Linked DNA regions of Homo sapiens. The protein of the gene in region 4 interacts with the protein of the main gene of each other region in a biochemical or structural test. Each region holds a gene or a part of one and is shown on either strand. Other genes may lie near its edges. The genes, in order: PTPRZ1, SLC17A1, RSBN1, LIN7A, GPR12, IGSF5 and FZD4.

Region 1 (3,500 bases), on a different chromosome or scaffold from region 4:
ATGGGACATGGGATCAGTTAAAAATCTTCATAGGAGTCAAAAGCAGAAAAAAAGGAGATGATCTTTTGTTAGGATATTTGCTTTATTTTCTTCTCAACTACCTTCCTCCCTTCCTTTTTTCTTTCCCTCCTTCCTTCTATTTTTCCTTCCTTCCCCTTTCCTCCCTTCTTCCCTCCCTTCCTCCTTTTATCCTTCATTCCTTTAATCCTTCCTTCTTTTCTTTTTCTTTTTTTGTTGCTATTTCCTCTTCAGCTTCACTTTCTTTTAGCATGAGTTTAAGATAATTAAATAAACTTAAGTTTGCTCAGCACCTTGATGAAAAGTTTGATAGGGAAGAGATTAATGCTATTTGAAACCATTAGTTAAAAATATTTTTACTGTGTTAATATCATTTGGGGGTCTTTGTAGTTAACAAAATTTTTAAAGTATGAGTTGGCAGATGTTTTTGCCTAAATATTCCAGTGTGGTAAAATGGGCTGATTGTCTTTGTTTTCCCCTTCTGATATTTGCCCACAGATATTAAAGTAAACTCAGTTATTTTGGGTACTGGTTAATGTGAAGTTTTTGGCCTTATTCAATAAGTACAAGTCAATTTATGTGCATGCTAACAGGGGATAGTTTTTTTTACAAGTTTCCTTGGAAATGTAGTACTTGGGTACTTGGAAATAATTTATTCATTAGTAAGAAAGAAGGATTTTCTGTTAGAATATCCATAACTATGATGAGAATACAGATATTTTCCTGCTCTTGGAGAAACATTCTACCCTCTCTCTCTGCCTTCCCCTTTAGCACTTACTGGATAAATTTTCTACTTTTTCACTGTTACTGACTGAACTGCCTATTTCTTGAATCCTAAAGCTCTAATGTATTTACCTAAGGATGGGTCTCACTATGAGCTCTTTTCTCTGAACTGATTAACTCAGTACCTTGAGTAGGAATAAAATAAAACATTGATTTTTAAAATGACTCCTTTAAGCAGAGATCATGGTAATAAACAGAGTCTTGATTACATGCTTAGAACATGCTGGCCAGATATAAGGAAGTTTTTAGATTTTCTAATGGTTTTTATTCATATTGTCATCAGATTGAAAATTATTTCTATTATTAAATTTTTACCCACTTGCATTCTGACACATTTTCTTGAATAGGATATGTCAAGGTGGTATTGTCTCAGCTGCTACACAGAGTTGTGCAAAATCATGATCTGCCCAAAGGAGCATAAGGATACCCTTGAGGAGCATGTGGGATATTATTGTCATGTGTGTTTTAGTGCACAAAAACGCTGACAACCATTTATCTAGGTTGATAATTCTCAATCCTGGCTGCATTTTGAACTTACTTGGTGTTATGGACTGAATGTTTGTGTCCTCTCCAAAATTCATGTTGAAGCCCTAACCTGCCATTGTGATCGTATTTGGGGACAGGGCCTTTGCAGGGTAATTAGGTCATGAGGGTGAAGCTGTCATTGATGGGTTTAGTGTCTGTATAAGAAGAGAAAAAGACCAGAATCCTCTCTCTATTCACCATGTAAAGACACAGCAAGAAGGCAGCCATCTGCAATCCAGAAAGAGAGCCCTCGCCAGGAATCAAATCTGCTGGCCTTTTGATCTTAAACTTCCCAGCCTCCATATCTGTGAGAAATAAATGTCTGTTATGTTAGCCACCCAGTAAATGGTATTTTGTTATAGTAGCCCAAGCTGACTATGCACCTGGGAGACTTTTAAATCATACTGATGCCTGGGCATCAAATCAAGTACTTCATAATGTATGGGTGCTGAGCCCAGACATGGACATTTTCTTAAAACTCTCCAGGTGATTATAGAGCACAGCCTGGGACTGAAACCACAGATCTAGGCCAACTTCATGACACTACTAATCTTAGTTCATTTTTCTTAAGGTGGAGATATTTGCAGGTCTTATGCTGTCCTAAAACAAAGCTAGTGCCACAAGACAAAGGTCCTGGAAATTTTCCCTTCTCTCTCTCTTCTTAAGGCAGTTTCAGCTTCAGAGTAACCCTAGAAGGAGGAGTATGCTCTATGGTGATTGACCTCATAGTCTTTTAAAGCCAGGGAAACTTTAGGAGGCCAGGCAGTCTTGGAGTGGGTCCAAAGATTCAAGTCTATCAGCTGGTAGGAGGGTAAATGAACCAGCTTCCGAGATGGGGACTCCAAGTGACATTTATCCAGACACAAGCACATAATATCGTTCATTTCATCAATGATACATATTCTTGTTCTCTGTTATTTATTTTCTTTCTCCATGCATAATTTGTTAGAACTTGGCTTTTTGTTTACTGTTATGAAATAAATATTAAGATTTAGCTATTGCTTTTTCATTTTAGCAATTTGTGTGTTTTATGAAATTATTAATCAGGTATAGGCTATTTCTTTTTACTGTATTTGAAAAGCACCAATAACTCCATTTAAAAATTAACAATGAACTTTTCTAGGTGTTTCAAATAACTCCTTTAATATACTTATTAGTGATGATGCAAGTACAAATTAATTTAATGAATCATTTTTGAGCATCTTCCTTGGGATAAATATTCCTCCAGAGAGACTATTCTTCTCATGGCCAGCTGAACTTTTACAAGATAGAAAGATGCATACGTAAGTAGGTCTCATACATGATGGAGTTTCTGGCATATGAGACTGTGAGCTGTGTGGAGATATATTTAGTCTTAAATTCACCTCTTAGAAGGTTTCTAGTAGGAGATGGGATTGGATATAGACCATTCAGGATAAATGGATAGAGCTTCAGGGGTCACCATGGGAGCAGAAGGCATCAGAGGGATTAAGGTTGGCATGCAGAGAAACATGGACTGAAAGTGAGAACGTGGTAATTGGAGGGAGGGGACAGTGGGGAGAGGAGTATAACAGTAAAAGGTCTCAAATGGTAGGTAGGATTTACAATGGCCAATTGAAGAGTTTTGTGTTTGAAATCTACTCATTGTACAATGGGAAATTACTAAAGGGTTTTGAGCAGTGAAATGACTGGAATAGATCTCTTTATTTCAGGAAGATAACTCAGGTATCAGAGCATAGGATGGATTGAAGCCGAGGGAGACAGGGAATCAGGAAGCTTGGTTAAAAGCCTCTTACACGGTGGCAGTCACAGTGGAAATTTATAGATCATTTGGGATATAATAATATCATCCTCTTTATAGAATTCTTTAATGTTTAACAAGCACTTTCAGATACATTATCTCACTTGATATGAATGTAATTGGTATAATTGGTAGGACATTGTGCCATTCTCTGGAGTGAGTCACTGGTGATCCTTAAGGGAGTGTCTTCTCTGGGAAGGTGAAGATGTAGCATGGAACACAGGGAATCAGAGAAATATCCAGGAAGGAAAAGAGAAGGTAGCAAATACATACAAGTCCACAGAAGTTGATAACTTGGAGGGAAGAAAGAAGAGAGAGAAACAGAGGATGATCGCTTGAAACCTGATTATTTATTGAATGGTGAAACTCTTAAATTTGTTAAGACAAGGCAGTA
Region 2 (3,500 bases), on a different chromosome or scaffold from region 4:
GTTTTATTGAAATGTTCTTTTTGTCTTGGTTTTCTGCAATTTAAATATGGTATGCCTAGGTGGCTTTTCTTTGTTTTTGTTTTTGCTATTTATCTTGTTTGGTGTTCTCTGAGCTTCTTGGATCTGTGGTTTGATGTTTGTCATTAATTATGGAAAGTTCTCAGCCAATTTTTGAAAAAAATATTTCTTGTTTCCTATTCTCTCTGGCATTCTGGTCATGCACATGTTACACCATTTGATACTGTCTACAATTTGGGAAAGATCTGTTAATTTTTTAAAATTCTCTTTCTCTTTGCATTTCAACTTTGGGAGTTTCTATTGACCCATATTCATGTTCACTAATTATTTCCTCAGTGGTGTGGAGTCTACTGATGAGCCCCTCAAAAGCATTCTTTGTTATAATTTCCTTGATTTCTAGTATTGCTTTTTCATTCTTTTTATAGTTTCCATCTCTTTACTGACATTACCTATCTTGTTTTTATTTTTTGCTGCATCTACATCTTCTGGTAGATAACAACTGATTATCTTCCAGAGATGAAATTAATGAAACATTTAAATATCCTGCAAGTCAAAAACTTTAAAAATGTAATGTGTCTTCACCTTCCACTCCTAATTTAAAATGCTTTCCCTTTTTTTCCTCTTGTCCAAATTTCTTGATTGTAAAGAAGCCCTAACTCTTGGGTTTTATTCTCTCTCACATAGAAGGATTTACACAACAAGCCCTTCAGAAATACTGAGGCATACTTTAATCATGGGACATTTTATTTAGGTCACTCCTGGCAAGGTAGATGAAGACTTGAGCTTCTTTTTCAAATATAGTATCATATCAGTACAATTCCATATCTACACAAATTAGTTAGCAAGACAGGCTTTTAAACATTTGACTGTGGGGAAAATTATTGATGTACCTTTATATTATCCAGGAGCTTCTTTGTGGAGGTGTTGGGCAAACCATGTGGATCTGTGCTATTCACCATGACTACCATTGTGAGGTTCAGGCACGCACGCTGTGCTGTTATTATAACATTACAACAGTGCACAAGGAAAGACAATCCATAGCGAAAGGAACAGAAACCTGGAACTACAAAGTAAAACAGAAAGTCGCAATTGCTGACAGAGCTGAGATAAAAACATACTTTAACTATAGGAGGGACATTCAGAAATTTGGAGCCCTAGATATTAATTTAAAATTTTATTGTACTTAATGACCTTTGATAATTATTATATAATAAGAAGATGTGAGACTGATATAATAATACCATATTCTCCTTAAAATTGTATTTCCAGCTAGAAGTTCCAAGAAAATCAAGCCAATCTTTCAAGTTCTTTGGCTCAAGTCTATTTTTTAAAAGACCCTTTATAAATACCCTGTGTTACTCTTGGACATAAGTCCCCCTAATTACAACAAAGACATTTTCTGTCAAGAAAACTATTCCTTTTCCAACATTTAAAAAATACTCTGGTTGAAAGACTTATATATGCCCAATGCAGAGAAAAAAATGGCATTTTAAAAAAATGTAATTACTTATTGATATAAGCTAGAGTAATCAGTTGGTGTACAGCCAAACAAGTTCATTGATGGAAGAAAGTAGGGAGTCCAGAAACAGATACACATATATGGTTAACTTTTTAAAAATAAATGTACTAATGCAATCCATTGGAGGAAAGTAAAGTGTTTTTCAACAAATGGCATTTTTTTCAAGAGAAATACAGGTATATGTCTACAAAACAACACATACAGAAATGTTTATAGTAGATTTATTCAAAATAGCAGAATGTTTGGAAAGAATGGACATATCATGGTATGTTAATACAATGCATATTACTCAGAAATAAAAGGAAAGAACTACTTATACACAACAATTTGGATAAATCTGGATGAATTTCAACAAAAACATGTTCAGTTAAAGAAGCTAGATACCAGACAGTATATACTATAGGAATCTAGTTTTATGAAGTTCAAAAACAGGCAAAGTTAATCTATATGGCCCCCTCCATCTCCAAAATCAGCAATGGGAACCTACTTTATGTTGAATCCCTCTCACACTTTGAATCTAGCTACTCTGCCTCTGACCTGTACAACCAGATTTAAAGGGCTCATGTGATTAGATCTCTCCTAACTGCATAATTTCGCTATTTAAGATTAACTGATTTGGGACCATAATACATCTGCAAAACCCCTTGAAGCAGCACCTAGCTTAATGTTTGCTTAAATAACTGGGAGAAAGTGTGTATACACCAGGGGCTGGGAATCTTGAGAGAAAACTTAGAATTCTGCCTACTACAGTCCACCATCTGGCCCTTAAAGACTCATGTTCATTTCACGTGCAAAACATATTCACCCATTTCAAGCTTCCCAAATTCTTCATCTTATTACATTATCAGCTCAAGTTCAAAACCTCATCAAAATCTCATAGCACAAAGTCCAAAATCTCATCATCTAAATCAGGTGTGGAAGAGGGGCCTATGATTAATCCCTCCTAGGGCACAATTTCTATCTGTGGGCTTGTGAAACTAAAGAGACAAGTTATATGCCCCTAACACTTTTACCACGTAATGGTGGAACAGGTGTAGGATAAAGCTATAGACATTCCAGTTCCAAGGTGGGAAAAATAGAGGAGAAAAGGAGTCATCGATCCATAAAGGTTCTGAAGTTCAGCCAGGCCAATGTTGGATTTTTCATAAGGTCTGGAGATAATTCTTGTGGCTCTTGGCTCCACCCTCTGGGCTTTGGGCTGTATCCTCTGTGCTCATTGTTCCACCCAAGAATAAAACAGGGGCCAGGGAGCTTGGGTGCCATCTTGGAATTCTGTCTACTGCACATTCATAGTTAACTAAGAATTTTTTATTGCAAATAAATATTAATATCATAAATAAATAGATTTTTTATATCTATTGAGATAATCATACTGTTTTCCTCTTTCAATTAATTTGTGTGGAGTGACATGTATACATTTTCTAACATTAAGTTACTCTTTTATTTTAAGAATAAACCTGACTTAGTGTTGGTGGTTGCTTTTTTAATGTTTTTATAAATTCTTAGATTTGTTTTGTTCTGTTAATATTTTATTTAGGATTTGGTGTCTTTATAATTTTCATAAGACTATTTTGCTTTATATATTGGAAGCTATTTTATTAGATAATAAATATTTTACATCATCTTACCGAATTGAATTTTATATCATTTTGCAACATTCTTATAGAATCGTTTGAACTAGCAAAAGACTGTAAACAAATTAGATGTTTATAAATCAGTGACCATTTAAATAAATTATAATATATCCATCCATACCAAAGTCATTTGCAGCTATAAAAATGCTAAGGAAAATCTCTGCCAAAAATTGTGGAATACTCTTTAGATAAACTGTTAAATGAAAAAAAGCATTAGTACCCAACAAATAGTTGGCTAGTTTTCTGGCCAACTGAGCTTCCGTTGTTAAAAGATAAGAATATTAGATAAAATATGCTTAAAATAAACCATTTTTTTAAAAGCATGGGTG
Region 3 (3,073 bases), on a different chromosome or scaffold from region 4:
GCAGTGATTAGTTAGAATCTGTATTATTCCTTATATATATGTATATGTATGTATTCTCTGTTACAAAGGATGAAGACAAATAGGGATACATTTCAATGTAAACCATTTATGAATTGGAAGTGATGTTGGCTTTAGTTATCTTTGTAAATAAGGTAATTAGAATGGTATGAAAGGTAATGTGATTATTGCAGGGGTGTTTTTAAATCTTGGGTATAAATTCTAGGGTAAATTCCAGTTTATCCAGACTAGTTTTTAACGGGACCTGCCTTTGAGGGTGTTTTTTGTTATTTTGTTGGGGAGGGGTTTAATCACAAAGTGTGTGGGTTTGGGTTATTTCTTGTTTTTATTTTTCTGTCCAGAAGAGCTTTACCAGGCTGTGCAAAGTAAAATTCTTCTCAGGCAACATTTGCTTTTAAAAATAATCATGAAGAGAAGGCTGTTAAAGCAAAAATTTTTTTTTTTTAATTTTTTCTTGTCTTCCAAGATCCGATTTCCCCATCTCCCACTTGCCATCCAGCAGATGCCATCTGTCATCCAAGCTGGTCATTGCTAATAAACAAGGAGACTGTCTCCTGACAGCCAGCACTGTGTATTATCACTCAGGAACCAGCGGATCTGCAAAGACCTACAATCAAAAGCAAATCCCCATTTTCCTTTTATAAAACATTCTACCCTCACCTCCAATATAAACACATTAAAAGAGTACAATAAAAATGTTTAAAATCATGTACTAATAAATTCATTGTATGTTAGAATTGCAATAGAATGAAGAGAAACATTTAGCTAGTAACGTGATCTGAAAACTGAATGTCCTATGTGAGTATTAGATTTTAATAGCATGCTTTAAAGACTGATGAGTATAAAAGCAGAAGTTTTGCGTTTTTTACTGCTTTCAAAGCTGTATCCTAGTTTAGTGATACAAATGATTGCAATTTTTCTAAATCATTAAATTATTTGGTTTGGTGGAGTGAGGCATGGAGCAATCTGGCGTCTTCTGATTTGTTAAAGTAGTGATGGCAGTGAAGTTGTAACTGAAATTTAAGCTGATCTTCCTTTTTGGTATATTATCCGTTGTGCCAGCTCTTGAGATTACTTGCACAATGTGGCTATAAGTTTTAATATTTTGTGGAGCAGAGGGATGGTTTTTAAATGTGCTTATGGAAAGGACCCAATAAATGAATATTCCTAACTTAGTAAAGTAGAATAATTTCATGGTATTCATTAAAAAGCATAAAAGTCTTCCTCTTGCCCCAGAAGTAATTCTCTATACCAAGATATGCTAGGAGTAGGATGATGATTCAAAGTGGTAACCCAAATTCATAAAGCAATAATAATAAAAACCTATATAGTATGTTCTCTCCTCCAAAGTTTTAACTCTAAAAATTGGTTCCTAGGTTTAATTGTACCTTTAATTTGCTTATTCAGTACTTAGAATTTGTTTAACTGGTACTTTTATTATTTTTTAGTGAAAGACTTTTGAAAAGTGCCCTTTCCCCTTAAGAGACAGTTGGAATACCAGTTGACTAATATTACAAGCTCTTGTAGGGGGAAAAAGGAGCTTATTAAAGTTGTTTACTAAACTTTAGGAAAAGATGTCTTGCATCAGTCTTACTAGGCATAAAAGTCACACTTAATGACTGGAAAAAACTTGCTTATTGCCTTTCCCTATATAAATATTAATTGTCTAGAATGAAAGCTAATATAGGAACAAGACTCCCAAATCCATGAAAACGCTTAGTGAATATATTCTTAATCATTAATAAATTAGCCCATTATATTTTCATCTGTATTTGCCATAAAAAATTTATTTGCATTTATGCCTTTAGGATAATTTTGTATCTTTCTAATCTGTTTTATCATTGCTACAGGTTTTTAAAAAAGAACCTTTCACTAGCTAGCACATGCCAGAGGTTCACATCTGTTTTGTTTTTCAAACAGGTCGTAGCTGTATTTATTGGCCATGCAAGTAGAGGAAATGCACAGTACAAATGTTTTTCTTTAGCACGTAAGGGACCTATCCTTGTCTTGAAAGTTTGTTGCTTTAAAAGCAAGTATCTCTCCATAAATATTATGGCCTTCCATTTTCTTCATACATTTTTTAGGATCCACTTGTGCATGTAGTTGAGACCACTGTCTCTTAAAATATAGCACTTTTCAATTCTCTCTAAAGAAATACTTATGTACTACTATCACATGTTGTAAATTTTCATGTAATAGTGTTTTCTGTGAGTAAACTCCATTTTGATTGGCAGCTAAGACTTTTTTTCCTGTGGCTTTTATTTATCTAAGAGGTCTTTGCATATAGATGAAATGTATATTTGCCTGGCGGACTATTTGCGTTGTGTGGCCTTAGTTTGTTTATTGACATTAACGAGTGTTTTAAAAAGGTTTTTAATGAATAGTCTTAAATCTAAATTTGTGTGAATAATCCTTTTAACACAGTGCTTTTTTGTAGCTGTCTAAGTGTGTTAAATTGTTAAGCTATTTCTTTGTAAAATAGGACAATGGAATGCATAGTTTTTTTTTTTCCTGTAAAGTATTTTTTTAATAAAAAAAGTCTGATTTGTCCTTTACTGGTGTTTCATCACAAAATGCATAGCATATGTGAGTTCTAAATACCTGGAACCTGTTTTTAGAGGACGAATCCCTCACCTACTGTATCCCCTACTACTTCAAAAAAAATTTTTAGAAAATCTTATGACTTCTTTCCTAAAGATGTCTGGGGAAAATTCCATCCATATTGAGATGCAATTAGTTTGGGGGAAGAAGAAAAAATACACTTGACATTTGTTGTAGTTAATGCCTCTTAATTGCTTAAATTGGTGTGTATCTACTTAAAAGAGGACAGTCTTAAATTTTTATTCTGGTGATGTGGATTTTCTTGAAAGTGCATTGAGTATTAATGAAGATGGCGTATAGACTTTTATGTCATTGATGTATTAATGTGACACAACAAAATGGATTTCTTTCCTCATCAGTTTTTGTGTGAAGTTATCTTTAATTGAGGTACCTGTCCTAAGCACTGATAGCCTTTGGTTCTGTCTAGGAAAGGAAAAGAAAGGGACTTCACATT
Region 4 (3,500 bases):
ATGTCTCAAACACTGTAAAAAAAAAAAAAAAAAAAAAAAAAGGCAAACCAGAAAAACAGTTTCAGTATGTGACTGTCATATACTTAGTGCAAAAGGGTTTTTTTTCTGGTTTATTTGCCCTTTTTTGTTTTTTTGAGACAGAGTTTCACTCTTGTTGGCCAGGCTGGTGTGCAGTGGCCTGATCTGGGCTCACCACCACCTCCGCCTCCTGGGTTCAAGAGATTCTCCTGCCTCAGCCTCTCGAGTAGCTGGGATTAAAGGTGTGCAACACCACGCCCGGCTAATTTTATATTTTTAGTAGAGATGGCGTTTCACTATGTTGGCCAGGCTGGTCTTGAACTCCTGACCTCAAGCGATCCACCTCCCTCAGCCTCTCAAGCTGCTGGGAGTACAGGCATGAGCCACCACACCCAGCCTGCCCTTCATTCTTCTAACAAGTCAATAAAGATCTAAGCAGAATGAGCAGTTGACATGCATGGACAAAAAATAAAAAATATAAATGGACAATAGACCTCAGAAAAGATATTCAAACTCCCTAGTAATCAAAGAAGTATAGACCGACATAAAAATAAATATACAGATATATTTTTTTTTGAGACGGAGTCTTGCTCTGTTGCCCAGGCTAGAGTGCAATGGCGCGATCTTGGCTCACTGCAAGCTCCGCCTCCCGGGTTCATGCCATTCTCCTGCCTCAGCCTCCCGAGTAGCTGGGACTACAGGTGCCTGCCACCACGCCCAGCTAATTTTTTTCTATTTTTAGTAAAGACAGGGTTTCACCATGTTAGCCAGGATGGTCTTGATCTCCTGACCTTGTGATCCGCCCACCTCGGCCTCCCAAAGTGCTGGGATTACAGGCGTAAGCCACCGTGCCTGGTCAATATTTCATTTTTAACTTAAAAATGATAAATATATATTTTAAAATTTGGTGTACAGACAAGGATGTAGGAAAATTGGACTCAGACTGCTAATAACTTAACAAAAACTGGTGAAATTTTTCTGGAGGGCACTATCGTTATGCATTGAATAAGCCCTTATTATAAGTGAATAATTTTATATTAAGAAAAATCTATTCAGGATACAATCAAATAGGCACACATACTTATAAGATAGATACAGAAAACAAAAAACAAATCAATTCTTGGCTTTTGAGTTTCAAAACAGTCTTTTGAACATCATGGCGTAGACAATACTTGGAGAAACTATGCTTCCTCTAAGTAAACACAATGCTGCTTTTTTCCCAATCTTCTGAAGATTCTCCAGGTTAGGATGATGGAGAAGCAAAAAGAAGAAAGTTGTAATTAGACTTTATAGGACCCTACATAAGGAAACCCTGGCTCCTGCCCCTCTGAGCGGATCACCAGGGCAGATGACAGAACCCTTAATTTACAGGATTGAACTGCCAAGGCCTTTTTGCCTTGCTTCTTGGGTAAAGTACAGAGAAAAAAAATCACTGTGCAGTGTGATAGATGGAGACTGAGATAAGGTTAAAGAGTGTCAGACGACCTAGGAGTCACACTGAAGAGGCAGAGAAGGCCACCCTCAATTGTTTGACATTACATTTTCACAATCCAAGCAGAAGGGAAACTCAAAAAGATACTAAATTGAGTTACAGAAAAATAAAGGAAGTGAAATCTTAAGCACCCTTGAATTATACCTTCAGATTCATAATTTCTACTGCAGATTTGGAGACTTAAGGGATCATTTGATCATTGGCTTAGCCACTCAACTAATATGTTTATTAAGCATTTATTTTATGAATTATAGTCTACTACGTTTCTTGAGAAAACATGAAAGGAAGGTAAACTTTGACAGCATCGTGCAATATAAACCCTATTTTCAGTATGTTTGTAATTTCTTTATAACTGGTCCCATGATGATTTGTTAATGCATATAATTTTCCTTTGAAAGGAAAACTTGGTGATTTGGTTGTCTACATACCCTTCTCTAATTTCTTTTTTAATATTAAAACTTACATGTTTATGTTTTAATAATGGTTCACCCAGTTTCTAGGCCAGATCATCAGTCTGTAGACTTCTTCGTGGCTTTTGTTCTATTTGCTTTTATTTAATAGGGTTGGAGATTCTAGGCCAGACCTTTAGAGGCCCATTATCTCTGTTTTGGCACTGTGTCTGCGATTCAGTTGCCACAGGAGGGCTGTGGTACTAATGTGTGTGGGCCATTAGGCTCTCACGGTGGTGGTGAAGAGTTGAGAGAAAAACGGCTGGCTGGTGCACCACACACCAGGCCCTGCAAAACCATCAAGGTTATCCTCTTCCAGTCCCTGCTCTGCCCTCTCCCACACAGTTAACAATGTATCAAAAGCAGACTCCACAGTTTTCAATTCCAGAAATTTTGCCTTCATGCTTTATCTTCAGTTTAGACAAGGACTCAGATTCTCTTTAAGGCTCAACAGAGTCAACAGGTCTGTTGGTTTGGCTCTACTGTCTTTCCCACCAGGACACAGAGCCACTATGAGAGATCTGGGCAGTGTCACAGTTCCTCATTTGTACTACTGAAATGCTTTACTAACATCCTACAAATTATATAATTAAGCAGCTAAGAAGTGAATTTTAGAAAGATATTAAGAAATATAAGCATACTTGAAAAATTTTTATTTCAAACACTCCTCAACTTTGCTTTTTAATTGTTTTCAGAAGCATATCTTGTCTTAAGGATTATTTTTGTGGCCTTTTTTTCCCCACTAGCTTTGCCTACTTTGTAAATACTTTTGAGTACATATGCTTGTCTCCTTAACCTATTATTTATCTCTGGAGTGCTTTTAGTCCATCAGTATAACTTTGTAATAAGAATAAGGCAGTTTTCTCTTCTTCTTTCTTTCCCTTTTAAGGTAAGAACAAGAAATCAAACCATCTTGCCACAGAAGTCTTGTTGCATGAATAAAAAGAAGCCAAAAGATCTACTCAGTTAGGGTATAAATGTTGATGTGCAAGCCCTTCACAGGTATTCCTTGAGCCCTGAAAGTTCAGCATCTATTCTTGCTTTTGACTTAGTCTGTGTCTCACTCTTAATGAAAGTATGCATCATTTCTAGCTAAATATTTAAGACATATTTTGAAATGTGATAGGTTATTTATAAACAGTTAAGCTATTTTTATCAAAGCTGTATATACAAGCACTCCTGATTCAGAGTTGTCTTTTATAAGAACCAGTGTAAGTTTGAGCAATCACTGAAAACTTGTAGCACCAGCTTCCTACATAGGCTGAGAAGGTGGTTCTTATATGACTTTAAGAGCTCTAAAAAGACTTCTTATTTTACAGTGAAACCCCCTCCTCCATTTAAAAGCTGAAATTCTATATTTTTAAGTTTTATCCCCTTGCTTTAAGAGTTTTGTTGTACCTATTGCATTAGCATAAATTAATTTAACAAGGCCTTGCAATGGACGTCTGGTAAAATTGGATTTTATTAAGAAGGTGAGGAGTGATGAGAACAGCCTGAGGGTATATAGTAGGTACCCAGGAAATATTTTGACCAAAGAGAAG
Region 5 (3,987 bases), on a different chromosome or scaffold from region 4:
CAATGGTGGATCTAATCAATCCTACTTCATATGAAGATCAAAACCTACTTCAGGATTCATTTTAGAAAGTACATATTGGAAAACTATATTGAAAAATGACCCGTTGGAATCTAGATTGACATGGCAACATTTGAAACAAGTGGTCTAGCTAACACAGTCGACCATGCAGAAGGAGTTGCAACATTTATAGAAATACCGAAGGAATTCTCGTGAACAGTAATTGCCGAAAGGAAAGAAAGAATGGATAAGAATGGGTTCACGGTTTCAGTGTCGGTGACATTACTGAGTTCATGTTAGCAAAATCAGGTCCCTTCCAAACACAATTATGTAAACTATTTGTATTGGATTGAAAGGGGTCATATTCTGTTACATACATGCAGCATTAAAAAATCTACCATCATGTAAAAAAAAAAAATAGTCTGGAAAAAGTAAGTCTTTCTCAATTTTCCTCAATCACTCAAATTTATTTTAAAGTCCAGGTAAAAACTCTGAAACTCATTTACTTCTAATAACATCATGGGCGTATCATATCCCTTCCTTTCCTACCCCCAGTCAGCCCTCCAAACAAAGTATAAAAGGAAACCCTTGCCCCCAAGCAAAACAAAATAATGTTGAGTGGAGAGCTCAACAATTTTTTTTAATGGTGAAAACACTGGTAACATTATTTTCACTTCAATCACTTAACTCATCTGAACGATGTCATTGTTTCACGAATGCTAAGTGCTCCTGTGGCTTGAGAGGGAATCCAATGCAAGGAATTCAAGGGAAGCATCTCAAACCTTGGCCAGGCAGTGGAAGTGCTTGGTAAATGCAGAGTCCTCCTGGGTGCAAGGGTGCTACACATCACTGGGCGAGCGCGCTCTCTGGGCGAGACTGGACGGGATGCAGCCGCAGCAAATGAGACAGAGCGCTTTCTGGATCTCTTGGTTTCTGAAAGCATATATGACAGGGTTGATGATGGAATTGTAGGTGGCGGGCAGGAGGGTGGCGTAGGTATAGATGGAGGGGTAGGTGTAATCCGCTATCAAGGAATAGAGGGTGAAAGGCATCCAGCAAGCAGCAAACGTCCCCAGGATGATAGCCAGGGTGGAGACCCCTTTCCGGGTGGTCACATAGTGCGACGTGGCCAGGAAGTGGTGCTGCAGGGCTATCTGATGGGCGTGCCTCATCACAATCTTACAGATCTGGATGTAGAGCTGAAGCATGAGCGCAAACATGAAGAGGAAGGACACCGAGAGGATGGCCGCGTTGTTCTTGGTGAGCGGTCTGACCACGCTGCAGGTGGACTCGTCTCGGAGGCAGTTCCAGCCCATGACGGGCAGCAGCCCCAGGCAGATGGAGGTCCCCCAGAGCATGACGAGCATGACATAGGTAAACGTGACCGTCCTCTCCGAATGGTACGTCAGAGCGTAGTACAGTGAGAGGTAGCGGTCAACAGTGATAGCCAGCAAGCTGCAGACAGAGGCAGAGAAAGAGGCGACAATGAGGCCGATCGTGACCAGCTTGGTGGCTTCTGACTGAAGCAGGTAGGCAAAAACAAAATTGGTGATGAGTCCAATGCCGGCCAGCAGGTCTGCAAGAGCCAGGCTGCCTATTAGCAGGAACATGGGTGCTCGCAGGCTGGGGTTGTGGAAGATGATAAGGACCACAATGGCATTTTCACAGGAGATGAGGGTTCCCGAGGTACACAAGACAATGTCCCAGGGGTTGACTACGAGCTCAGGCTCTGGCTCTACGGCAGGAACCCGGGAGGAGACAGCAGCCGAGATGTTCTCCGCAGCAGCGGCATCTAAATAATCCCGAGGCAGCCCGCTTAAATTGACCTTCAGGTCTTCATTCATTTTAACCCCTGTCCTCTTCAACGAAAAGACAGGCTTTTTAATGTTTAAATACAGCAGGGTGACAATCCAAGATCATGCAAAAAACACACAGACAAACAGAAAGCCAGCCCCTGCTCAGATACCAGTACCAAATGCCACAAGCTTCGGGAATGAGGAACTGTTGGGAAATGAAACAAAAGCCAAAGTCTCTGTGGTTTAAACCCCACAACAAAAATGCCGTTTGGCATTGGGGAAAACACAGGGTAGGACTTCAAAACACCAGCGTGAGCGAGGCAGGCACACACGGACTCGCGGCGGTCTGTTTGCAACAGCGCTGGGAATGCACATTGGAAAATCACATCTTGCATGCTGAAAACGAACAACTGTTTGACATCTGGGCTGCTGCCGAGAAAACCACGCGGCAGCGGCAGGTCTCGAGCCAGGGGCCGCCATCCTCGATGGAATATTTAAATCGCCTATTTCCATCGAACTCCCACCCTCCAAACGCATCCCCCGCGCGCGTGCACATCCTCAAACGCACCCCCGACCGGAACAAAGAGGGGCTCCAGACTCCCCCCGTGCGCACGGGGCAGTCGGGAGGGCCACGAGAGGGAGGTGTGTGCAATGGAAGTACCGAGACAGACAGACAGACAGATGCCCATGCACTGCTGCCGATTCCCTGGCGGCGGGGACGGGAGTCGGACGCGAGGGGGACAGACAGGGTGCGGGGACAGGCGGCCCGCGGGGGCGGGGGGGTCATCGAGGGGGTCACCTTGGCTCGCCCAGGCCGAGGGGGCTCCTCCGGTGCTTCCGAAGCGCGTGGGCTACTCGTGTCGCATGTCGGCGCAGTTGCCCGCTGTGGCAAGGGGGGGGCGGCCGGGCTCCGGAGCGGGCCGGGAGGGCGCGGGGCGCGCACTCCGCGGCAGGTGAGCGGCGCGGCTGCAGGTGAGCAGCAGCCTCGGCTCGCGCGCCCAGCTTTCCCCGCCGCGCCCGCCCGGCCCACACGCTCCCCGCGCGCGCGCCGCCCCCGCCCCGCGCGCGCCCGGCCGCCCGCCCGCCCGCGGGATCCCCGCGAGGCCGCGCGCCCCCACGGGTCAGGGCTGCTCTAGGGTGCGGGCAGGCGAGGGCGGCCCAGGGGCGCGGGGCGAGGGGCGAAGGAGCCAGGAGGCTGAGAACTGCATGGTAGCCCTGCCTGCCTGCCGCGCTGCGCGCCCCACCCCAGCCGGCGGCCCCGGGCTTGCACCGGGCGGGGCAGGGGAGCGCTGCCTGGAGCCCTGTGACCTATTTCGTTCCTGTGGTTTCCCTGGGGAGCTCCAAGTCTCTACAGTCCTGGCTTTTCCACGCCTTTACCTAAACCACTACATTCAGGGCCAAAAGAATTGCTTAGGATGATATTCACGATCAGCAGCAGGGATGCGGGGTGGACAGGTTAGGGAAGCAGATCTTTAAAACAACAAAATGCCCCGCACGCTCTTTTAGAATTGCCCATGGTCCTGGACCTGGTTCATTATCACTGTTCCCCAGGAACATTTGCTTGACTGGATAGATGCTGCTGCTCTGTGGATCATCATTATCATCACCAAATTGCACTTATTAAGCGCTCTTTGAGCTGTGTTTTCAAATGGAAATCATTTACTGAGTTCTTGTAGAAGCTTCCTGCAGACATTGGCCAAACCCCAATTCATTTAGATACTGAAGTGGCACTATTAATTTATTTTTTCATTTTGCCACATCAATGGATTCTAAGATGAAGAACCTGATAGCTGTCTGCTTTTATGATCCCATGCCTCCTCTGGATATAAAAACCAGAGCACCTCATAGATCTTAAGTTCCAAGATGATCCTCCAGTTTAAAGATGGGATAAGGAAAAAGTGTGATAGTCTTGTCTTGCCCTGTCAGAGGTGAAGGTTTTCCCACTGCTTTTCTTCCACTTGCCCAGGGGCTCTTGTATGAATGGAGATGGTCTGCAGGCAAGGGACCCTACAGGGGCATCATCAGCTGACCAGCCTGCCTTCCCCTGGTGCTCACGTCTTCTCTACCCCAGCCCAACAGATTCGGAGCCTCAATCACCCTTGACTTTCTTCCCGCTTCTCCTTCCCTTCTTCCATCAATCAGTTTCTGGCTCTGCAAGGTCACTCCAGCTCTCCCTGCATGCCACTTCTCATCA
Region 6 (2,700 bases), on a different chromosome or scaffold from region 4:
CAGAAGGAAAAAAGAGATTCATTTTCAAAACTGTCATATACAATATGACAATTTTCTTCTCTGATTATTTCTCTGATGACTGAATCTACAGTTAGAATATGTAGTACTGACATGGTTTTCTAGACAAGAGTTTCCCTGTTGGTGAAACAGAATGAATTTGGGTGCAACTGCAGCTGAAACACATTAGGGTAAAAGTAATAAGTAAAATTAGAAATTCCTACTAAAATAACCAATTACTGGGAAAGGCATGCTTTTTTATTTCAATATGAAGCCAGGGGATTTGCAAATGTTTTTTATTTTGGCGAATATTTAAAACAAAGAATCCTCCTTTTCCTCTCTTTGTCCTGTGCCTTAACTCACTGTCAGTGCATTTTCCTGGCTGTTTTAGGAAATTCTCTGTCTCTGTCATTTTCAGAAGATGGGCATATAAACAACTTGAGACCTGGATCAAGCCTTCCCCACAAATCACCCCCTCATTGAGACAAACAGAAATACATACTTGATAAATTTAGAAAACAGCGATGTTTGCACAACCCAGCAGTGAAAACAAAAGCAAACGACAGTAGGAATCTCTAGCATATTAGCAGCAGAAGGCACATGTCTTAAAGCACTGCTGACATAGTTCCATCCGCTGTCCAGTTTTCCCTGTGTTATTGGGAGTCAACAAATTAAGAGCGTGAGCCAGAGTAATTCTATCCTCAAGACTTGCTAGCATTCCATCACATTGTGAATAATTTATCATGCCCAGTTACATTATTTAAGATGTTAAGTGCAGCTATTGTGCCCTGGAACCTGAGCTGCCATTCTCAGGACTGGCAGGAAAAAAGTGTTGCACACATTTTAATAAGGCAATATTATGAGACAGGCATTGGCCACTCTGGAGGATTAAATGGTTTGTTTGGGATTACATTTCTGAATGAGAACAGGGAAGACTATGTTTCTCCCTGATAGGGAAAAGAGACAGGTGGGTGATCTATCTGGAGTCAGTTCTTCAATTTTGTCCCCCTGTTCTAGAAACAATGCACGCTCTTTAAGAAGTTTAGAAATATTTTATATTTTCATAAAAAATCTAGCCAGTAAAGCAAGAACTTCCTTAGGAAAATTGAAACACAAAACAAAACAATGAGTCGTGGTAATTTGCCTTAGTCAAAACAAATACTGATTCTTGGAATTGGATTGCCCTTTAGGGCCTGAACTTGGAAAACTTCTATATTGTGTGTTACCAGAAATAATGCAAGAAAGGAAGAGCTTATTTTAACATTTTTGTTCCTCTCCGTACCTTAATTTTATCTTAACAGATGAGTGAAGCTCTCTTTTCAAGTTTGCATTTTACAGTGATCTCAACCCATTAAATTGACTTTTTTCCTCCTCTGTTGCCAGCGGGCTGATCAACGTCCACCCAGGCCAGCAAGTCATCCACAGGCTTCTTTTAATCTGGCCAGTCCTGAGAAGGTCAGTAATACAACTGTAGTATAGCAAAGCCTTCCCCAAGCTCCACTGAGCACTTGGCTGACAATTCAAAACACGGCGATGGCATCCTTCCTTTCCATCCTAAGACTGGCCTGCAGCTTTGCCAACATTACCTGAAGAGGAGATGTCGGAGTCATCAGAACTGATACTTGACAGTGAGAGAAGGAATCGATTTTCCCAGAGTTCAAAGTAGAATGTGACTTTTAAGAGGTTTCATGGTTTTTGTGAATTCCATGAAGTTACTAAGTAAAAGCTGCAAATTCATCATAATTTTTCTCAACATTCAACACTCCTACTTGTTAATCCAACAAATGGTAGATAAAAGTCTGTATTCTACCATGCCTTTCAAAAGTTTTTATTATCTGAAAGCATATGAAGATGATATTTATGTATATTTAATATGTAGGGGTATTATTACATATTATCAGTGAAATACGAGTATAAAAATTAGGGTCAACCAGAAATCTGCAATTGACTGTCAAAACTGAGCTCAGTTAAAGTAAGATTCAATTCTAACATGGATGTGCACGTTCCTAAATATCTTATGATTGAATATTTACATGAAGGCATTCATTTTTATCTGCCCCTTTATCAGACCTATTTGCATCTCCTCAAATGAATTAGATGTGGCCTATGCTTTGCAGAGGATGGACCTCACCTACTCCGCACACCGTGAAAAAACTGGAAATGGGCATTGTAGTCTTTAATTAATAAAAACACCAAAAATGTGTATTGCCTTTCTTAACTCTTCACTATTCAGTTGGTCATTTAAAGAATCATAGTATTCGGGAATCAAGCCTTTTCCGAGAAGGAAAACAAGAGCCTTCTGCAAAAATCCATCACATCTTCACAATTATCTTTGCTGACTGTACATTCACTTCATTTAAAGTTAACATGAATGTTGTTATGAAGAATAAATTGCTGCCTTTCCCCAGTATTTTTCTTTTTCCATGTAGATACAGTCAGTGAATTTAACTGCCCATTCCACCCCTTCATATTTAACCTAGGGGCAAGACTGTGATTTGACCGTACTCTGAACTGGTTGGTGCAGATTTCTATGCTGGTTATAATTAGCAACTGCTTTGAGTCCCTCAAGCTCAACCATGCTATTGCTAAAGCAGAATTTGACTTTTAAAATATGTCAGGATTTTAGTGAATTCCTTACGGATACTTAGTAATAGATGCAAATTTGTCATGGTGTTTCTAATCACTCACTCCTGCTTGCTAATC
Region 7 (3,500 bases), on a different chromosome or scaffold from region 4:
TGTCTTTCAGTCAAGAGACGCTGTGAACCCGTCCTGAAGGAATTTGGATTTGCCTGGCCAGAGAGTCTGAACTGCAGCAAATTCCCACCACAGAACGACCACAACCACATGTGCATGGAAGGGCCAGGTGATGAAGAGGTGCCCTTACCTCACAAAACCCCCATCCAGCCTGGGGAAGAGTGTCACTCTGTGGGAACCAATTCTGATCAGTACATCTGGGTGAAAAGGAGCCTGAACTGTGTGCTCAAGTGTGGCTATGATGCTGGCTTATACAGCCGCTCAGCCAAGGAGTTCACTGATATCTGGATGGCTGTGTGGGCCAGCCTGTGTTTCATCTCCACTGCCTTCACAGTACTGACCTTCCTGATCGATTCTTCTAGGTTTTCCTACCCTGAGCGCCCCATCATATTTCTCAGTATGTGCTATAATATTTATAGCATTGCTTATATTGTCAGGCTGACTGTAGGCCGGGAAAGGATATCCTGTGATTTTGAAGAGGCAGCAGAACCTGTTCTCATCCAAGAAGGACTTAAGAACACAGGATGTGCAATAATTTTCTTGCTGATGTACTTTTTTGGAATGGCCAGCTCCATTTGGTGGGTTATTCTGACACTCACTTGGTTTTTGGCAGCAGGACTCAAATGGGGTCATGAAGCCATTGAAATGCACAGCTCTTATTTCCACATTGCAGCCTGGGCCATCCCCGCAGTGAAAACCATTGTCATCTTGATTATGAGACTGGTGGATGCAGATGAACTGACTGGCTTGTGCTATGTTGGAAACCAAAATCTCGATGCCCTCACCGGGTTCGTGGTGGCTCCCCTCTTTACTTATTTGGTCATTGGAACTTTGTTCATTGCTGCAGGTTTGGTGGCCTTGTTCAAAATTCGGTCAAATCTTCAAAAGGATGGGACAAAGACAGACAAGTTAGAAAGACTGATGGTCAAGATTGGGGTGTTCTCAGTACTGTACACAGTTCCTGCAACGTGTGTGATTGCCTGTTATTTTTATGAAATCTCCAACTGGGCACTTTTTCGGTATTCTGCAGATGATTCCAACATGGCTGTTGAAATGTTGAAAATTTTTATGTCTTTGTTGGTGGGCATCACTTCAGGCATGTGGATTTGGTCTGCCAAAACTCTTCACACGTGGCAGAAGTGTTCCAACAGATTGGTGAATTCTGGAAAGGTAAAGAGAGAGAAGAGAGGAAATGGTTGGGTGAAGCCTGGAAAAGGCAGTGAGACTGTGGTATAAGGCTAGTCAGCCTCCATGCTTTCTTCATTTTGAAGGGGGGAATGCCAGCATTTTGGAGGAAATTCTACTAAAAGTTTTATGCAGTGAATCTCAGTTTGAACAAACTAGCAACAATTAAGTGACCCCCGTCAACCCACTGCCTCCCACCCCGACCCCAGCATCAAAAAACCAATGATTTTGCTGCAGACTTTGGAATGATCCAAAATGGAAAAGCCAGTTAGAGGCTTTCAAAGCTGTGAAAAATCAAAACGTTGATCACTTTAGCAGGTTGCAGCTTGGAGCGTGGAGGTCCTGCCTAGATTCCAGGAAGTCCAGGGCGATACTGTTTTCCCCTGCAGGGTGGGATTTGAGCTGTGAGTTGGTAACTAGCAGGGAGAAATATTAACTTTTTTAACCCTTTACCATTTTAAATACTAACTGGGTCTTTCAGATAGCAAAGCAATCTATAAACACTGGAAACGCTGGGTTCAGAAAAGTGTTACAAGAGTTTTATAGTTTGGCTGATGTAACATAAACATCTTCTGTGGTGCGCTGTCTGCTGTTTAGAACTTTGTGGACTGCACTCCCAAGAAGTGGTGTTAGAATCTTTCAGTGCCTTTGTCATAAAACAGTTATTTGAACAAACAAAAGTACTGTACTCACACACATAAGGTATCCAGTGGATTTTTCTTCTCTGTCTTCCTCTCTTAAATTTCAACATCTCTCTTCTTGGCTGCTGCTGTTTTCTTCATTTTATGTTAATGACTCAAAAAAGGTATTTTTATAGAATTTTTGTACTGCAGCATGCTTAAAGAGGGGAAAAGGAAGGGTGATTCACTTTCTGACAATCACTTAATTCAGAGGAAAATGAGATTTACTAAGTTGACTTACCTGACGGACCCCAGAGACCTATTGCATTGAGCAGTGGGGACTTAATATATTTTACTTGTGTGATTGCATCTATGCAGACGCCAGTCTGGAAGAGCTGAAATGTTAAGTTTCTTGGCAACTTTGCATTCACACAGATTAGCTGTGTAATTTTTGTGTGTCAATTACAATTAAAAGCACATTGTTGGACCATGACATAGTATACTCAACTGACTTTAAAACTATGGTCAACTTCAACTTGCATTCTCAGAATGATAGTGCCTTTAAAAATTTTTTTATTTTTTAAAGCATAAGAATGTTATCAGAATCTGGTCTACTTAGGACAATGGAGACTTTTTCAGTTTTATAAAGGGAACTGAGGACAGCTAATCCAACTACTTGGTGCGTAATTGTTTCCTAGTAATTGGCAAAGGCTCCTTGTAAGATTTCACTGGAGGCAGTGTGGCCTGGAGTATTTATATGGTGCTTAATGAATCTCCAGAATGCCAGCCAGAAGCCTGATTGGTTAGTAGGGAATAAAGTGTAGACCATATGAAATGAACTGCAAACTCTAATAGCCCAGGTCTTAATTGCCTTTAGCAGAGGTATCCAAAGCTTTTAAAATTTATGCATACGTTCTTCACAAGGGGGTACCCCCAGCAGCCTCTCGAAAATTGCACTTCTCTTAAAACTGTAACTGGCCTTTCTCTTACCTTGCCTTAGGCGTTCTAATCATGAGATCTTGGGGACAAATTGACTATGTCACAGGTTGCTCTCCTTGTAACTCATACCTGTCTGCTTCAGCAACTGCTTTGCAATGACATTTATTTATTAATTCATGCCTTAAAAAAATAGGAAGGGAAGCTTTTTTTTTTCTTTTTTTTTTTTTCAATCACACTTTGTGGAAAAACATTTCCAGGGACTCAAAATTCCAAAAAGGTGGTCAAATTCTGGAAGTAAGCATTTCCTCTTTTTTAAAAATTTGGTTTGAGCCTTATGCCCATAGTTTGACATTTCCCTTTCTTCTTTCCTTTTTGTTTTTGTGTGGTTCTTGAGCTCTCTGACATCAAGATGCATGTAAAGTCGATTGTATGTTTTGGAAGGCAAAGTCTTGGCTTTTGAGACTGAAGTTAAGTGGGCACAGGTGGCCCCTGCTGCTGTGCCCAGTCTGAGTACCTTGGCTAGACTCTAGGTCAGGCTCCAGGAGCATGAGAATTGATCCCCAGAAGAACCATTTTAACTCCATCTGATACTCCATTGCCTATGAAATGTAAAATGTGAACTCCCTGTGCTGCTTGTAGACAGTTCCCATAACTGTCCACGGCCCTGGAGCACGCACCCAGGGGCAGAGCCTGCCCTTACTCACGCTCTGCTCTGGTGTCTTGGGAGTTGTGCAGGGA

The links.
Region 1: the proteins of LIN7A (region 4) and PTPRZ1 interact in a test that uses a peptide from one of them, tested with the Homo sapiens proteins (one large-scale study listed by IntAct).
Region 2: the proteins of LIN7A (region 4) and SLC17A1 interact in a test that uses a peptide from one of them, tested with the Homo sapiens proteins (one large-scale study listed by IntAct).
Region 3: the proteins of LIN7A (region 4) and RSBN1 interact in a test that uses a peptide from one of them, tested with the Homo sapiens proteins (one large-scale study listed by IntAct).
Region 5: the proteins of LIN7A (region 4) and GPR12 interact in a test that uses a peptide from one of them, tested with the Homo sapiens proteins (one large-scale study listed by IntAct).
Region 6: the proteins of LIN7A (region 4) and IGSF5 interact in a test that uses a peptide from one of them, tested with the Homo sapiens proteins (one large-scale study listed by IntAct).
Region 7: the proteins of LIN7A (region 4) and FZD4 interact in a test that uses a peptide from one of them, tested with the Homo sapiens proteins (one large-scale study listed by IntAct).

What each region holds. Positions count from the first base shown.
Region 1 is NC_000007.14:121,879,661-121,883,160, forward strand, and holds part of PTPRZ1 (receptor-type tyrosine-protein phosphatase zeta isoform 1 precursor), read left to right. Parts: intron 1-3,500. UniProt on the Homo sapiens protein: Protein tyrosine phosphatase that negatively regulates oligodendrocyte precursor proliferation in the embryonic spinal cord. Required for normal differentiation of the precursor cells into mature, fully myelinating oligodendrocytes.
Region 2 is NC_000006.12:25,825,553-25,829,052, forward strand, and holds part of SLC17A1 (sodium-dependent phosphate transport protein 1), read right to left. Parts: intron 1,082-3,500; coding exon 909-1,081; intron 1-908. UniProt on the Homo sapiens protein: Important for the resorption of phosphate by the kidney. May be involved in actively transporting phosphate into cells via Na(+) cotransport in the renal brush border membrane. Plays a role in urate transport in the kidney.
Region 3 is NC_000001.11:113,761,332-113,764,404, reverse strand, and holds the end of RSBN1 (lysine-specific demethylase 9), read left to right. Parts: 3' UTR 1-2,573; downstream 2,574-3,073. UniProt on the Homo sapiens protein: Histone demethylase that specifically demethylates dimethylated 'Lys-20' of histone H4 (H4K20me2), thereby modulating chromosome architecture.
Region 4 is NC_000012.12:80,812,435-80,815,934, forward strand, and holds part of LIN7A (protein lin-7 homolog A), read right to left. Parts: intron 1-3,500. UniProt on the Homo sapiens protein: Plays a role in establishing and maintaining the asymmetric distribution of channels and receptors at the plasma membrane of polarized cells.
Region 5 is NC_000013.11:26,757,987-26,761,973, forward strand, and holds the start of GPR12 (G-protein coupled receptor 12), read right to left. Parts: upstream 2,801-3,987; 5' UTR 2,593-2,800; intron 1,857-2,592; 5' UTR 1,842-1,856; coding exon 837-1,841; 3' UTR 1-836. UniProt on the Homo sapiens protein: Promotes neurite outgrowth and blocks myelin inhibition in neurons. Receptor with constitutive G(s) signaling activity that stimulates cyclic AMP production.
Region 6 is NC_000021.9:39,799,882-39,802,581, forward strand, and holds the end of IGSF5 (immunoglobulin superfamily member 5), read left to right. Parts: intron 1-1,380; coding exon 1,381-1,476; 3' UTR 1,477-2,200; downstream 2,201-2,700. UniProt on the Homo sapiens protein: Provides, together with MAGI1, an adhesion machinery at tight junctions, which may regulate the permeability of kidney glomerulus and small intestinal epithelial cells. Mediates calcium-independent homophilic cell adhesion.
Region 7 is NC_000011.10:86,948,896-86,952,395, reverse strand, and holds part of FZD4 (frizzled-4 precursor), read left to right. Parts: coding exon 1-1,254; 3' UTR 1,255-3,500. UniProt on the Homo sapiens protein: Receptor for Wnt proteins.